Linked DNA regions of Homo sapiens: region 2 is linked to region 1. A link means that fine-mapping ties the variant in region 1 to the expression of a gene that starts in the linked region. Tissue or cell type: neutrophils. Region 1 holds a variant in brackets; the other region holds the start of a gene. All regions are shown on one strand. Distances are from middle to middle.

Evidence for each region. PIP is the estimated chance that this variant, and not a neighbour inherited with it, causes the effect.
Region 2: LINC03015 starts here. The variant in region 1 is fine-mapped to the expression of LINC03015 in neutrophils (BLUEPRINT, PIP 0.95).

Annotation. Positions count from the first base shown.
Region 1 is chr7:165,922-174,447 of GRCh38, reverse strand. It overlaps LOC105375116 (TRIO and F-actin-binding protein-like), which reads right to left and starts at 1,277. Exons shown (of 4, transcript XM_017012903.3): 1 at 1-1,277. The variant G/C (reference allele first, on the strand shown) is at 3,559.
Region 2 is chr7:145,252-154,181 of GRCh38, reverse strand. It overlaps LINC03015 (long intergenic non-protein coding RNA 3015), which reads left to right and starts at 4,744. Exons shown (of 3, transcript NR_134325.1): 1 at 4,744-4,853; 2 at 5,564-5,650. LINC03014 (long intergenic non-protein coding RNA 3014) reads right to left here and starts at 4,464. Exons shown (of 2, transcript NR_108065.1): 1 at 4,050-4,464; 2 at 1-773. RefSeq lists an enhancer at 4,719-5,013.

The sequences.
Region 1 (8,526 bases):
TCCACCGTCGCCAATGCACCTGCCTCAGCAGACCCTGAGTTCGTGTGCGTCACCTGGCCCCGCAGAAGCTGGGCATGCTCAGTGTCCCACCACAGGGAAATCAGGACGTGTCCCTTTGGAAGGCAGCTAAGGGGTGCAGAAAGGGTTTGGGAACCTCCTTCGTGCATACCTGTGTGTACCTGTACATGTGGATGTATGCACATGTGTATGTACAAATATACGTGTGAGTGTGCATACACGTGTGCGTGTATGTGTGTGTGTACATGGGTCAGTGCATGTCTGAATGTGCACAGCCACTCCCTCGAGGCCCAGGGAATGGGGCCTCTTTTAAAAGGGCCAGAAGCTCCAGCTAGCTGCCTGCTCCTCCCCACCCAGGGTGCTAGGCATGGGCCCCCCATTCTGAGGGGCTGCACTGAGACTGAGACAACCCTGGACCCAGGCCTTGCCTCTCTACACTGGAGTAACTCAGAGAAGGTGACAGCCAAAATTCACTCCTGGTCTGCCAGGCACCAGGAGGCCCTCGCACACCGCTGCCTCTCCCTGGCATGCATGGAGCCTGGGGTCCCTAACCCTAACCCTAACCCTAACCCTAAGGGTCTTGTTGCACGTCACCTGCTGAGTGTGGCTCGGGAGTGTGGGTCTCAGAGCAGGAGGGGCCCTCTTTGGAATTCACCCTCTGCGAGGCTTCCACGCCGGCCGGCCTCCTCTTGGTGGCTTGCTGTGTCTGGGCCCTGGCCTAGCCCTGTGGTGACCTCATGCTGGGAGTGCAGAGCCTCCCTCAGAGCCCCGGGCCCCATGGCCCCTGGAGAACCTCCTGCTCCTCAGCGATGGGTCCTGGAGAGTCCACAACTCCACTCCGAAACCAGATCCCGGAATCTGAAATCAAGCTCACCGGACCAGTGTGTCCAAACTGCCCCTAAATCCTGTGGCCGTGCCCCTTCCCGACAGACGCCCCGTTAGCTCCCGCTGCAGGCAGGCAGCCAGCGTTCCTGAGGCCTCAGGCTGTCCTCTCTCCGCTCACAGCAGACTCCCCACTCCCTTCCTCGCCCCTCTGTGGGCAAACCAGGCGGCTCAACCCATCCCGTGTTCATTAACTCCCTCGTCTACAGCCCCTGGGGTGGGCTGGCCCAGCCGAGAGAAGGTTCCCTGCGGAGGTCCCTGCCCCATCTGTGGACACAGTGCTGAGACCCCCTCGCAGTCCTCAGAGAACCCAAGCTTCGGCACTGGCAGCGCGGGGCGGGTCCTGTCCTCCGAGAGCCTCAGCTGGACTGGGCTGACCTGGGCCCTCTCCCTCCGCACTGGGCTGACCTGGGCCCTCTCCCTCCGCACTGGGCTGACCTGGGCCCTCTCCCCCCGGACTGGGCTGACCTGGGCCCTCTCTCCCCGGACTGGGCTGACCTGGGCCCTCTCCCCCCGGACTGGGCTGACCTGGGCCCTCTCCCCCCGGACTGGGCTGACCTGGGCCCTCTCCCCCCGCACTGGGCTGACCTGGGCCCTCTCCCCCCGCACTGGGCTGACCTGGGCCCTCTCCCCCCGCACTGGGCTGACCTGGGCCCTCTCCCCCCGCACTGGGCTGACCTGGGCCCTCTCCCCCCGGACTGGGCTGACCTGGGCCCTCTCCCCCCGCACTGGGCTGACCTGGGCCCTCTCCCCCCGCACTGGGCTGACCTGGGCCCTCTCCCCCCGCACTGGGCTGACCTGGGCCCTCTCCCCCCGAACTGGGCTGACCTGGGCCCTCTCCCTCTGAACTGGGCTGACCTGGGCCGTCTCCCCAGCTCCTCTGACCCGCTCTTGTCAATAGGTGTTTTTCAGGCTTCCTGGTTTGCTAAGGGCCCGCATCCCTCTCCTCACTCCCCTCGTGAAGCCAGTGTCACAGATAGGCTGGAGTGGGCTGCCTGAGAGGAGCTGGCCCCCTTCTCCGCACGTACCTCCAGCTTGCCCCAGGGACCCTCATGGCAGCTGGACGTTCCCACGAACACGAAGTGTCCCCCACTCTCCAGGAAGGGCCCAGGTACCCTCTGTTCTCCAGATCTCACTGGCTCTGCTCCCTCCAGAGGGAGCTTACAGAGAGCAGAGTCTGAGGCCCTTGATGCCAGGATGGTGGGGGTCCCGGGGTGGCTGCGGCTCCTCCAGCCCCAGAACTGTGTCTGGTGTGGTGTTCCACTGAGCAGGGTTTGCAGGCCTGTATAGAATTCCAGGAGCAAGCCCTTGGCCTCCTAGCCCCTGTGCCCCACCCAATACCTCCCACTTGTCCCCATGTGCGTCTCAACCTTGTGTCCAGGCTGGACCCTCACGCGGGAGCTGAGCCCTCCAGGGGCCCTCCCCTGTCTGCACGTGCAGGTGCTGCGCCCGGCTCCGTGCAGATGCTGTGCCCAGCCCTCTACTCTCCGCAGTGTCCAACACAGAACTGAAGCGTGCCCCAGCAGAAAACGCAGATGACCGCATATTGAGATTTTTTAAAATTTCTGTGAATGTAGCTTTTAAAAAGCACCTGAAAGTAAAATGATCATTTCTCAACATAATATTAGTCAAAGAAGTTACTGAGTACCTTCTTGGAACTTGAAATATCCTCCTGAAGACAGGAAGCCAGAGGCAGGAGAGGAGGTGTGAGCCGTGGGGCTCTGGACCTGAGAGAGCTCCCCCTGGAAAGCAGTGAGAGAAGGGTGCAGGCTTGCAGTGAGAAAAGGGCTGCCCTGCAGCGCCGTGGCCCTGGGCTTGTGCGTCCACACGCAGGCACTCCGGGCGCCCTTTGCGCCCAGGACACGGAGGGGAGGGGACACGGCCTTCCGTGTGGGTGTCGGGGAGGAGGCCGGGGTGGCCACAGGTGGGCGTGCGCTGCTGCAATGAAACCAGCCGTGTTGAGTGGCTACACTGGAGAGAGCTGCTTCCCAGACAAGGGGAGCCGGGAGGGGGGTCGGGGAGCCGGGAGGGGGTCGGGGAGCCGGGAGGGGGTCGGGGAGCCGGGAGGGGGTCGGGCAGCCTCAGGACGGCCAACCCCTAACTGTGAAGGAGGTGGTTGTACAGGCCCTTGATGGGGACAGCTTCAAACGCTGCTGTCCCACGCACAGAGCTGAGACTTTATGTAAATTGCGAGATGGCAGCAGTGCCCGTAACGGCGGTTTTCCTTGTCTGTTGCTGCTCAGCAGATGACCCTGGCCTGGATCCTGAACAACAGGACGACTTTTTTCTGTGGCCGGGCGGCCTCTCCCGACTGCGTGGTCTCCAAGCTCACTCGCATGGCGGCTGGTGGGATTCTCTCCTGGGGCTGCCGGCACTGCCTGGGGTTCCTGCTGCATGCGCCTCTCCGTGGGGCCCCTCACTTCTGGATACTCCCCAGAGGACGCCAGCAAAAGGGTAAGACAGGCCACAGGTGTCCCAGCCTCAGCCCAGGGGAGGCAAGGCAGCCTCAGGCCACCCCCGGGACAGGCTGCATGGGGTGGACACCAGGACATGGGCTCACATGGCCGACATGCACATGGTCTGCCATGCGCCCCAGATGCCCACTGATGGCAGAGCGGGTGCACAGCCTGTGGGGTACACACAGGAGAATCTGGACAG[G/C]AGTGAGAAGTGAGGACCCCGCCACTCTGACATAGCTACGACAGGACTTGTCTCAGCCATGATGCTGAGACCAAAGGGCGGACCCAAAGAGGACCTGTCCATGTTCCGTTTGTAGAAAATCCTACAGCAGCCGAACCAATCCACAGTGTCAGATTCAGAGCAGCATCAGCGAGAGGAAGGGGGTGGTGGATACTGACGAACCAACCCTTGCGGGTCCTGTCAGCGCCCAGCGAGTCACCGGCTCTGTCTCTCGCCCCTCCTGAGAGACCCCAAAGGTCTCATCTGAAGTAGGTGTTTGTGGCCTTGTAAATCTGCTCAGCCTCTTTGGAAATCAAGACTCACAAGTGATTCACTCTCACCAACTCGACAAGGCCATTATTCGATGGAAGAAACAAGAGACAAAAATAACAAGAAGAAGACAAACTTCCATTTCTAAAGGCATTTGTGGTATTGCCTGTAAAAGTATTTAAATTGGGAATCAAGAGAGTGTTTTCAGCATTTGAAGGATGGATGGTGAATAGTGATTTAGGAAATTAACGCAATATGTACAATTATTGGCAATGACGTTTTCAAAGTGACAGATCTTGAGAAGACAGTGCCGATTGTAAGTTAAAACCGTGTTCTATGTGCACTAAGATGGAAACCATGCGGAATACGTCCCCGTGAGTACTTCAAGGGATGCAGATCTGTGTGAAATAAAAAGAATGTGTAGAAGTAACGGTCTATGGGTGTGTGGCTTCCGCAAGTCTCTCTAACAACAAGAGAGCTTTTGCTCACAGAGGAGATGTAGGGCGTCAGGGCCCCGCTGAGTGGGCAGGAGCCACCGGGCTGGGTGTGCAGGATCCAGGCGGACCGTGGTGCAGGGAAGCAGGGCCCAGTCTTGGAAGAAAACAGAGTCCAGGGCTGGAGGGAGCTGAGGTCGGGCGCCCGGGCTGAGGAGGGGCTGGCAGGTTCCACTCCAGCCCCCTGCCCAGATTCATCACCATCCGAGAAACCAAGATCAGTGACGTCAACATTCTCCCAAGATGATGCTGGAGAAACTAATTATGGAGAAAAAAATGTTAAGAGAATGGAAAACCAGGTGTGTGCATGAACGTGTTTTTACCTTTGAATCAATTGTGATCCGAGAGCCTGATGTCTGGAGTGCCGTCTGGGGGACAGGACCCCCGGCCTTCCTTCCACCGTCCTGGCCGTCACTTAACCAGGGTCTTGACGGCAAGAAACAAATCACCCACTGGTTCATTTTACAGCTCATTAGGCAGGCACAGCAGACACCCATTACCGCCTTTGGCATTAAGGAGATTTTGAGATGGAGGCACTGCGAATGACGCTGGGATTAGCAAAGGTCAGAGCGAACATTAATGGAATTCTCATCCGCACAGAGTAAGTGGATCCATTTCCTGGTAATGGTGTGGGAGCTATTAAAGCAAGGTTGGAACCCACACAACGAGGAGATGGCAGATCCGGGCAGGACCGAGGCCTCTGCCTAATGCACTGGTCTCTACCGCCTGGGGAGGCCCTCCGGAGGGGAGGGATGCCTGTGTTCCCCGGGCGCTGGGGCACAGGCGGACCTGATGGTGCTGTTTCCAGCAAAGGCTCCACCTAACGATTTCCCCAGCAGGGTCTTGAGCTGAGGCAGAGAGTAGCTCAGGTCCATTTTTCCTTTGAAATGATCCTTGTGACTTTTAACGTGGAAATGCTTTAGATTCACTGGATTATATATATAGATAGAGAGAGAGAGAAATGACTCACTTTGTCACCCAGGCTGGAGTGCAGTGGTGCGATCACATCTCACTGCGGCCTTGACCTCTCGGGCGCAAGCGATCCTGCCACCGTGTCTCGCTACGTTTTAATTTTTTGTACAGGTGAGGTCTCACTACGCTGCCCAGGCTGGCCATAAAGACCTGGGTTCAACAATCTGCCCACCTTGACCTCCAAAACTGCCGGGATTACAGGCATGAGCCACCACCACACCTGGCCTGGTACATATAAATTTTTTTCATTTTGAAGACCTGCAAATAAAATTGAACAAAACCTCAAAATGCAGCTGCTGTGAGGGTTTTGAGGTGGGGGTTGGCAGAATCCTCCATCAAGCCTCTCACCAGACCTCGGGCAGCAGGGACATCCCTGCAGCTGTGTGGGATCTGAGGGGCCCTGGTGAGACCTTGTACTGTGGGGAGTTCCAGCTGTCCCTTTAGACGGAGACACCCAGCCAACAAGGGGACTCACACACGCGTTTCCTCAAAGTGGACGCCCACTTGGGGAGGGCGGCTTGGCTACCAGCACCTCCTTCCATGGTGAAGAGCACGCGCGGTCAGAGACGGATCCGCCAGGGACACGGACCCTCCAGGAGACGGATCTACTAGGGACACGGATCCACCAGGGACACGGACCCTCCAGGAGACGGATCCACCAGGGACATGGACCCTCCAGGGACATGGACCCTCCAGGAGACGGATCCACCAGGGACACGGACCCTCCAGGGACACGGACCCTCCAGGGACACCCCAACCCCAGCCGGACTGAGGATGCCCATGGGACTCTGGCCAGGGCCTCTGCAGCAGCTGCCCCGAGGTCAGGACTTGGTCCACACTGCCAGTTTCTCTGATTGTTTACCACCACCCTCCCCACATCACTCCCACCTCAGGCCCAGCCAGAGAAGCCACGGGTGCTCCTCTAGCCTGACGTGTAGGACGGCCGGCTGCCGGCAGCCTGGAGCTCCCCCACCCGCTGGACACAGTGACGTTTGGCCCCGAGGCCACCGGAGGCTCCTGTGCAGAGCCTGTGTTTGCTCCCATTGCAGGCCTTTGTGTATCTCTGCCTGCCCCATATGTCTGGTCATAGATGACAGAGGCTCCATACCTCAGCATCCATCAGAGGTGGCACCACCCTCAGACTTAGACAAGGCGCTCAGGGAGGGCAGAGCTGATGTTCCCTTTCTGTGTGTTTGTGTTCTCCTTTCTCAGGGGCTATCCTGGAGTCGCAGTAGAACTGGACACAATACAATCGAGAGGTGGGGTCCTGGTGCTCGCTGTCCTTGTGGGAACACTGTAAAAGCATCTGGCTGCTGATCAGACGAAAGTGCACAGCAGGCAAGGAAGCTCCTAGCACGGTAGAAGCTCATTCTCCACGTTGAGAGACGTGAATAGAGCCTGTTCCTCACACAGGTGCTGACTTGGAGCTTGTGATGTGTGTGGTCAGGACGCAGCACCTCCCGCTGGGCCACCGCAGCCCTCACGAGGTCCCTCTCGGGATGAGCTTCGTGTCTGCCTTGGGGGCCTCGGGGGCTCTGACACGGGGGCAGGAGGGATGGCCTCGCGCTGTCTTGAGTGGAAAATAAGGGAAATGTCCTTGGAAGGGGTGATTAGGGGGCAACTTCTGGGGGAGCTGGGAGAAGAAAAGGGCTCTGAGGCTGGCCTGACGGTCCTGCCTGTGCAAGAAGAGGAAGCAGGAGACGCTCTTGTGATACCAGGAACACCAGCTCCCACTGGGGAGGAGCCCAGCCTGCAGGCAGAGCCTCCAACCGGCACCAAAGGGGACGCCAGCCGGCCAGGTCTCGGGAGGAAGGGAGGGTGGGTGAACACCAGGAACCTCCACCCAGGGGCCTCGGCTAAGCCCTCTTCTCAGCGGACACCCTCACTCCAAGATGTCTCAGCACAGGGGCCTCCCCAGGGCAGCTGCAGCCTCAGGAAGGGGCCGTGAGCCCCACACCCCACTTCCTTCTAAGCCCACGCCTTCCCGCAGACCAGCTCCTGGGTCAGGTCCTGGCCAGTTGGGAAGGGCTGGGCCTTGTGGGTTCACCAGAGACACTGTAGGGTAAGCAGCCAGCTGAAGGGGTTAATTTTATAGGCTCGAGGAACACGGCTCCTTTCAGGTTGCTGGTAGGGCTGGGAACGAGGGGCTGTGTCTACACAGACATCCCCATTGTGGGGCTGATTCAGGGAATTGATTCAGAGGCCACACTCGGACGTGCACCTGCACAGAACTAGGGCACCCCACCTGTGTGGAGCACTCGCCGTCCTGTCGTGAGCCTGGGGGGCAGCGGTGGCCTGGCATGGACCCGGGCACACTGACCCTGCCCCGCACCCCAACGGTGGCCAGGAATTTTCTGGAGCCACAGGGCCCTGCCACATGCACCATGCAGGGAGGTCCACGGATCCCCCAGGGAAGAGCAGGTGTTGTCAACACCAAACCACAGGTGGCAGGGCCCTAAGGGGCTTTCAAACACCCCCCACTAGAAGGTCAGACTCTTGGTCTCCATCCATCCCCAGCACGAGGTCTGTGCAGAGAGTGAGGGCACTGCCTCTTCTAGACCTCCTTGTCTGGCCACGCGTGCCCTTTCCCCAGCTGTTCCTGTTCCTCCAGCTGCTTCTGTGCCTTCCCTCACACTGTTTTCTTGAGAAACACACAAGCATTTGCTCCTTTCCGGTCTCTACTCATTAAAGGCCTTTCATTCCCCAAGCACTCAGAGAGACTTCCTCTGAGCAGCCCCCTCCAGCCCACCCAGTGGCCACTACACCCACTGCCTGCGTCCTGCTGTGTCCCCCAAGGCTGGGGTGAGACTCTCACATGTCTCACATAAGGAAGGAGGGAAAGAGGGAGAGAGGGAGGAAGGGAGGGAAGGAGGGAGGGAGGGAAGGACGGAGGGACAGAGAATAGGAAGGAGGAAGGGAGGAGGGAGGGAGGGAAGGAGGAAGGGAGGGAAGGAGGGAGGGAGGGAAGGAGGGAGGGAGGGAAGGAGGGAGGGAAGGGGGAAGAAGAGAGGGAAGGAAAGAAGGAAGGAGGGAGGGAGGGAGGGGAAGTTCCTCCACAAACCAGCCACCTCCCCCCATCACAGCCCTGATAGGACTGCCCAGCCTTTAGCCCACAGGAGGATTTTAAGCTGCTGCCTGTATGTACTTAGAGAACAGTTTATGGTTGCTAACGTATAATTTTCAAAAGGGTAAAATCGTGATTCTCCAGCAAATG
Region 2 (8,930 bases), 20 kb after region 1:
GAGGTCTAGGTCTTATTCTCCTATGGGGTCATCTTAGTCTCTGTCTGGCCCTCGGTGAAGGTCATGGCATCTTTCAAGGTGACTCTGTGCAACCTGACTTCCAGAATCCATTAACTGCTCCTCCCCTCCTGCCTTCAGACCAGGGTGAGAATAGCTCTGCTATTATTAGGTCCAGAACACTGCACTTTTTTGGTAGTTTTCCAGCCCTCTGCCTATGTCTCTGCAAACAGTCCCCTTACCAAGCCCTCTGGGGATGACGCTAGTGTGCCCTGCGTTCCCGCTGGGACATTGACACAGACAGAACCCATACAACAGCAGAACTCCCCAGAGGACAGCCTCACCACGTGCACAGTGAACGGCCTGTGTGGGTGCTCCAAGACGACAGCCTCACAGCGTGCACAGTGAACGGCCTGTGTGGGTGCTCCAAGACATCAGAGGGGTCCCAGAGTTCTCCAGAAAAAATAACTATTCCACGTAGCTGCTAGCGTGAGACGCTGGGCCAACCCGAGCATGTGGGGAAGGCACCTTATGCTCTGCCATCACCCACAATGTGATGGTCTTGGGGGTGGGGCTTTCCGAGGTGAGTAAGTCATGAGGACCCGTTGTCGTGGAAGGCTTGAGTGCCCTTATAAACGAGGCCTGAGCTGGAAGGCGCTGTGAGGAACAGGCCCTCCCCAGATGGCAACTTGGTCTTGGACTTCCCAGTCCCCATAAATGTGAGAGATGATTGTCTGTTATTTTAAGCTTCCCAGTCAGTTACAGCAGCCAAACTTCTATCAAAAATAATAAAAGAACAGCAATTAGAAGTTTAAGAAATAAAAGGTCTTAGTTTAAATATAAAGAAACTTAAATGTGGCAGGAATTTAAAGAAATAATGGAGGACAAGGAGAAAGCGCATCTGACCTTAAGGCTGGGAACGATTCCTTTGAGTGACTCAGGGGTTGTGGTCCTGGGCCTCAGGGAGGGACATATTCGCCCAGCAGACGGCTCAGCCCTGGTGCACACCCTTCATACAGATGTGCACCAGGGGAAATTCAGTTACGGTTAAAGGGCTAAATGCATACTTCATCAGCTCATCAGCTATAAAAGCAATCCTCTAATAGGATCCGGGAGATGAAAGAGGGAGTGGGGAGGGAAGGGTGGGGCTGGAACCTCCTGGCATTACAGGGTAGGGACCACCGGACACTGTCAGAAATGACGCGACAAGAAATAGCCTTGAGTACTTTCAATTAAAGCAACAAAGGCAACCACAGACAAGCCAGGCCTACTCCCACCACTGCCACTGCTGGCCGCGAGGGAGGAGGCCAGCAGAGCCCAAGTCCCTGGCGCGTCAGTGCCGCTGTGCTGCTGGTCCCCGCTCACCTCTGCCTCGTTTTCGGGCTCTCTGTGTGTCCTGACACCTGTGCCTCTCACTTGGTGGTCTTTCCTCCGTCCCTTCTTGTTTGCCCGGCCCCTCTTACAGTGTAGCACTCTAAAGCAGCTTTTCTTTATGGAAATCTGTTTATTCCAAAGCTCTGAGGCAGTGTTATAAATATTGGTTTAAAACATTAGCCAGGGGATTACTGATAAAATATAAAATAGAAACAATTTCCCAAGGAAACTTCATCTAAAAATACACCAGTTTCCCCTCTCACCTCACTTGAGTAGAGGCACCAGAGGGTGTGTCAGGACCTGTCTCGGGGTGAAGGTCTCACTTCCTCACGCCTCTCCCACATGGCTCCCAGGAATCCCCCAGGAATGGCTTGGAAAAAAAAAATCTGTGACAATGGAGAAGAGTTGCCCCCAAAGAAACGTGCATATAAACAGCTCTTCCAGCTAGAGAAAAAAAAATTCTGCATAAATAATTCAGATTGCTGAGCTTGGTCCCTCATGCCTGTAATCCCAGCACCTTGGGAGGCTGAGGCAGCAGTTTGAGACCAACCTGGACAACATAGCGAGAGCTGGTCTCTACAAAAAATACAAAAAATTTAGCCAGGCATGGTGGTGCCTGCCTGTGGTCCCAGCTACGCAGGAGGCTGAGCTGGGAGGATCACCTGAGCCTGGGAGGCTGAGTAAGCCAGGATCACACCACTGCACTCCAGTCTTGGCGATGGACTGAGACCCTGTCTCAATGATCAATAATAATAATAATTCAGACAAACCAGGTCGAAAAATGTCCTGAGACGGTGAACTCAGGACCCAGCTACCTGGGGTGGACACTGTGGCTGATGGACCGGAAAGGGTAACACCAAAGGGCTCTAGGAGGTGTCTCATGTCTGGCTGTTGTCACTCCCCTTGGCCGCTGAAAGCCTTTCTGTTCCCCAGAATCGAGTAAGGAGCTCCTGGACAGAAGTGGGGAAGGAGTCTTCCTGCTCAGGGCTATGTTACTTAACTCCGTTTAAGTGACAGAGCATGAACAGGTCATATTAGTGTCACATGCACCCGATTTCATTCTCCATTTGCAACAATGAAGACTGTATAACGACATTGTTAAATACCCCAGAATTATAATTAAATCTTATTAGCCAATAGAATCTGAGTGTGCTAAAATCTCTATTAGCCGGGACTGATGTAGCCACGATGGCCATGCTCGGCGCGGCGGCTCACACCCGTAATCCCAAAGCATTTCGGGAGGCTGAGGTGGGCGGATCACGACGTCAGGAGTTTGAGACTAGCCTGGCCAACATGATGAAACCCCGTCTCTACCAAAAATACAAAAATTAGCTGGGTGTGGTGGCACGCACCAGTAATCCCCGCTATTTGGGAGGCTGAGGCAGGAGAATTGTTTGAACCCAGGAGGCGGAGGTTGCAGTGAGCCGAGATCCTGCCATCGCACTCCAGCCTGGGGGACAAAGCCAGACTCCATCTTGGGTGGGGGTGGGGAGGAAGAGGAGAGAGACCAAGCAGCAATATCATCGATAACAAATTACAATCCAAATTCTAGGCGGTGTTCTGGGACTGGTTCACATCCAGCTTGGTCTGGCCTTGCCACTCCCACAGGGCAGGACACACTGAGGTCTGCCTGGGGGTGCCTGCTCTGGCGGCTGGGCTCCCCGCTTTCTGCAGGCTCAGGTGCCCCCTATTCCTGCAGCCCTTCCTGGACCCAGCCTGTCCTCATCTCAAACTCGGGGCTGCTGGCCTGAGCTTGATCCCTTCACCGTTTCTCACTAATACGTCACTCTCGCCTCTTAAAAGATGACAAAGACTCTCTCCTTTGACCACACTCGAGTCAGGCTCCTCTGAGCCCTCCCTGTGACCAGTCCCTGACCTTGGCCGGTTTCGGCCGATTTAGCAAGAATCCTGCTGAGTCGGTTTAGTGAAAATCGTCTACTCTTGGTCCCTGATCAAAGTCCTCAACTCCCACCCTCGGTCTGTGACCACACTGCCTGCCTTTTCAGCAAAAATCCTGTCTATGCAGCTAGAACCCGCCTTGCCCCTGACCCTTCCTCTTAGTAATTTTCTCTCCACTCCCGACCCTACGCCTGGGCTGTCAATTCCCACTTTTTCTATCTGGAGTTGAGCCGGATCTGCCTCCCCTAACCCAACATCTCGCTTTAGCAGCCCCCCCACCTTGAATAAAAGCAGCCTTGCCCTCTTTAACAATTAATAAGCACAGACTGGGACAGGACATCCCCCTCCATCCCAGCGCCCATGCACCCTCAGCCACGGTCCTCAGACCTCAAGAAACCCAGCGGGTGACAAGCTTGGGTGTCAGCGGGGCTGGGATTGCTGCTGGGGGCACAGGAGCTCGGGAGCACTTTGCAGGTGAGCAGGGCCTGGACAGGGGCTTCTCTGCAGCCCACCCCTGGGGAGGACTCCGGGCCCTCGCCCTGGACGGCAGAGCTCGTTTTGCTGTTGCCCTACTGTCTCCGCGACCTTGGGGGTTCACTTAGCACCCCCAGGCCAACACCTGGCCTCTCCATGCACCAACACCTGGCCTCTCCTTCCCTGGCCTGCCGCCCTGCCTGTGTCTGGACTGTGGTTCACCGAGTGTGCACGTGGGCCTCGGAGGCTGCCCTATAGAGCCCAAAGTCCCAGGGAGGAGCAAAGGGGACCAAGTGCACACTCACCCAGCTTCCTCTGCCCGGCAACGTCCCTGCCCCCATCTCCCCTCCACCGCCACCAGGGCCTGCATCCCCATCTGCAAAGGGGACAGGGTGCCCACGCCTTCTGAAGCACGCGCTCTCCAGGCCGCTCTCCGGGCGTCACCCCGCCCTGCTCCCCTCGCCCCTGCACAGCCCGAGTCCAGCCTGGTCGCTGCCATCAGGACGATCAGGACCGACCGCCACCATCAGTGGGGACCGGCCAGGGCGGTTAGGCCCGGTCCGGGGCCCCAGGTCCCGCGTCCCCGCCGAGGCCAGGCAGGGAGGCCTGGCTGCCCCGGGCTTTAGAACCAAAATAAGCCCCGAAATGATTGGCGGCGCCCATGCGCCAGGAGAAAACCTAAAGGACGAACGTTCCCGAGTACATATAAGGACGATTAATATTTATTGCACAACTTTTTTTTTTACTTCCTTGTTAAAGAGGAAAACCTTACGCTAAAAATAAAACGACTAGGAGCCCTTGTGCCTGCGTGGGTGGCGCTCGCGCCTTTAAACCTGAAGCCACAGGGGCTCAGCCCCCCACCCGCGCAGGGCGGCTCCTGCGCATGCGTAAACAGAAGGGGTCGGGGCGCGGCCCAAGACGACGCCAAGGGAGCGGACGGGCGGGGAGGAGGTGGCCTCTGCGCAGGCGCAGAGAGGAGCGAGCGACTCCTGCGCAAGCGCAGAGTGAAGGGCCGGGAACAGTGGAGGGTGCGAGGAAGACAATGGGGGAGGACCCTGAGGCGGCCTCTGTGAGCCGACAGGAACACGTGGTCGATCAGAGAGAGACTCGTAAGTGCACGGAGCTGATGAGGTGACTATGGCGTTGCGCAGGCGTCCTGTAGAGGCGGGTTGTCATCGGCGCAGGCGCGGTGTGGAGGAAGCCCCGGCGCCGGCGCAATGAGGAGGCGGCCGGACTCGGCGCTGGCGCAGTGTGGAGGAGGCTCCGGCGCAGGCGCAGACGCAGGGCGGGCAATGGCCGCCTGGGTCTCTCGGGCAGCCCTGCCCACCTCTCTCGCGTCTCCTGGTCTTGGCCTGCGGCTCTCTTTCTGGCAGGTGCCGCGGCGTCTCCTGCGGGCCTGACCGTGTTCTCCCGCCTAGCCAGGCTCTTCTGCGCTCCTTTTTTGTTGAGATTTTTCCATCCCCTGCACAGGAAGTGTCCTTTAATTACTCCAGTGTTTTTTTAGTTACTTTTTAAGAAACATTTTGGACTTTTCGATACAGAATAGTGTCAAAAAAAAAATTTAACCTTCTTCAGGTTATATTTTAGTGAATGATATTAATATATGTTCCAAAGTTGTATGGGATTTCTAAAATTCTAATTTTTCTGAGTATATGCTACCGATCATAATTATGGTTATGTTGTTGTTATAACCAAATTTCTTTGTCAATTGTGTCTTTTTGAGTATTTAAAGTCATTTCCGCAGTTAATTGCTTCATGCTGATGTAGTTTCTGAAAACTTCACAAGCACACAAAAATCCTAGAACATGGTGTCTTTTAGGAGGTTCGTGAACGGATGGGGAGGACCCTGAAAAGCACTGTGGAATACAGGTTTCTAGTAACTTCAAAATCACATCATTTGGACTGGGTAAGAATTGCTGAAACTTTAATGAAAAGACTGACTGGCTTATAAAACTGCTAACCCAAATAGAATAAAAATTAATTGAATACCGAGGAAATGCTTCACCAGGTTTGCATACTTAATCAGCCTATACTGAAATTGTTTAGATATACAATTTGAATGAACTCCATGGTCTAAGTCAAATTACCTGTGATAACCCATCAGTTATCCATGCTATGTGCCCAATTTGGAGAAACAACTGGCACCCAAGAGGACATAAGTCCGATGTTAAGCATGGACTCATGGAGAACCAAGATGGCTGCCTTGTCCTTCGTGAGTCCTTAAAGCTTTTGTTATTAAAAGTTATGCATTCCATGACTCATCCTGGAAAAGATAAAATGATCCAAATTAAATATGTTGGTGTGGTGACTTACAGATTGTTAAAATAGTTTATAAACAATGTTTAGTTTGTCAAACCCATACTCCTGGGAAGTCAATCAAAGCTTCATGTACATTTGGCTACCTGATGAGGCATTTAAACATTTATAAAGGGGTTTCATTCAGTTGTCATTTTCAATGTATGTGTTCTGGTTGTACTAAAGCTTTCCCATGCAGGAGGGCTAATGTTATAACAGTAGATTACTATGTATCAGTGTATTTTCACCAGGTAAAGAGCTTTTTATGGTTCACTGAGGACAATCAACCCCTTCACAATCTAGAACCCAAAGATGGGATCTTCTGAGAACATCAGAGAAACGCTGCCCTTGGCATCATCACTGCAACAAAACATCAGGATCTTGAACCTTGGGGTCATAATCTCACAACTGAGCAGGGTCACTCTTGGAACTCTACATCCATTGAAACCCTTAAGGTAAAGCTAATCAGGGAAGTTTCTCCCCAGAAGAAGATGGCATCCTTGATGTGAGCAGCTCTTTCTGAAGATCATGGATCAAGACTTCTTACTATCATGAGACTCTTATCTTTGAATGTTTTTCCGTTGCTTCCGCCTCTGTGAACAACAGAAGTGAGAAGGGGGTCTGTTTTGTGCACTTATGGGGTATACTTTTATTTGTGAAGGGCTTTGCAGCCAGCTTTATACATGGATAATCTTATAACTTGATAGATAAAGATGAAGGCCCAGTGTATCATAGGTGAGAAACTTCAATGGTACATATGGTGCCTCATAATCATTCAGAAGCAGAACATTGGTTCACTCCTCTTAACCCACAGCATGGGTTAAAGAGACCATTGCCAAGAGGCCTTCCCTCTTCTAGAAGGGCATCATTTGTTAGGTCCTTTTTCCATGGTTTGGAATTAAAAAGGCAATGACTAGAAACATATCCCTCATGGTAGACTCTGTAGCAGATTCTACTGTAAAGGCTACACAACAGATGTTAAATTCTCTTGTGAAAGTTATGCTAAAAAATAGAATTGGCTAAACAGGAAAGTACCTGTGCAGATGCTGGCACTTAAGGCCTATGGAGAAAACATCAGGTGTTATAGAGAGTCTGTTGTAGGGAATTAACGAAAAGACCACTGAGTTAAGTCAAAGAATGGTCTATTTGAGTTTAGGTGGTCTGGTTTATGGGGACCCTGGCTAAGGAGCATACTCCAAATTCTTGGTGTTAACCCTCTCAGTAGTCATAAGAATAGTCTCCCTGGTGCACTGTATTCTCTCAAAGGTTTTAAATGTTTGCATGAAGCCATCTTTAGAACGTCAGATGGTCTCTCTTCAACTGGAATGACAAGAGCTGAAAGAAATGTGTGACCACGAGGACACCGAAACCGATGAGTGACATGCTGAGACTGGAAATCCAAAATGATAGTAACGGAGAGTGGCGCTAACATCCTAAGTTTTGGTCACACTCTTGCCTAAGTGACAACCTGACAAAGGGGGAATTTTTTAAACAAAATGATGGGAGGCCATTGTTTTGGACTGAGCACTAGGTCCCAACAGACCAAACCGAACCAAAATGGCATCATTCGTGCTAAATGTGACATAATCGAATTAAGACTTTAAGGAAACACATGGGTCCTAGAATAGACCAGGTTTTGTTTTTCTCTTGCAAACAGGACTTTCCAGCATAAGGTGGTATCCTCAACTCAGTCCTTGTTCCTACCTTTGCAAAACTCACTGTTCTGCTTCCTAGTGGGTTTCAAGACCAATGGTGACAGTGACATCAATAACTCAAGTTTCGATCAATCTCTCAAAACTGATAAAATGACCAAAAAGGGGGAATTGTTAAAGCGAACTAAATATGGCCTGAGAAGGACTCCGTACTTCTGTATTGGAGTCCCTGTGAACAAACTGAGCCTAACTTAATAGGTAGACAAGATTGAAAACCTAAATTAGGAGTATGTACCTGTCACAATTGCTGAGTCTCGGCCAGTCCCAGCAGCCGTACTTCAATCACTCATACACTGCTGAATGTTCAAACTGTGTGTAAATAAGGCAAATGCCAACCTGTAACTAATCCAGGTGTTTCTCTACCTCACTTCCCTTTTTTTGTCTATAAATCTTCCACCACGTGGCTGCACTGGAGTCTCTCTGAATCTGCTGTAATTCTGGGGGCTGCCCGATGTGCAAATCATTCATTGCTCAATTAAACTCCTTTAAATTTAATTCAGCTGAAGTTTTCTTTTAACAAGAGTGAGATAAGAATCTGTGTTCTTATCCCCCAGAATGGACAAATCAGTAGCGTTCCTTGTCATTCTTTTGTGGCTGGTTTCACGTAAATATTTTGTGTGTATGATAATAGAATTTGATTTTAATGAATATACTTTAAAAGCAACTTTTTTTTTATTCTTCCTCACCATCGAAGATGGAGAAAAATAAGAAGGGCTGTCTTGCGGTTCCATTTCTTTTGTGGATAGTAAGAAGCGCTGTCTTCTGGTTCCGTTTTTTTTTTCTGGATAGTAAGGATGTTTATCTTACTCTGTCTTCATTGTCCTCAAACCTCAAGTAGTCACTAATACCCTGGCTATGACAGCTTTTATCGTAGTGTTAAATGGCAGATTTATTTACTTGGCAAACATTGTCAAGTCTCAGAAAAATTACCCCATGGTCTTGCCTTCTTCCCTCGTGAATTGCCTTCCACTGATGGAGAGGATTTGATCTGTTCCCTGCTCATCAATTTTTCTAGCTTCTTTGGGATGTCCGCTCTGCATATCTACTAAGGAATTAAGAAATAATGGCTTCAGCAAGAAACAAGGCAGGAAAGTGCAGTGACATGAGGACCATACAGGGAAGGAGCTGTCCCCAAAGGTGAGAATGGCCCTGGACAAGGGTTCTTGCTGTGACTTCACT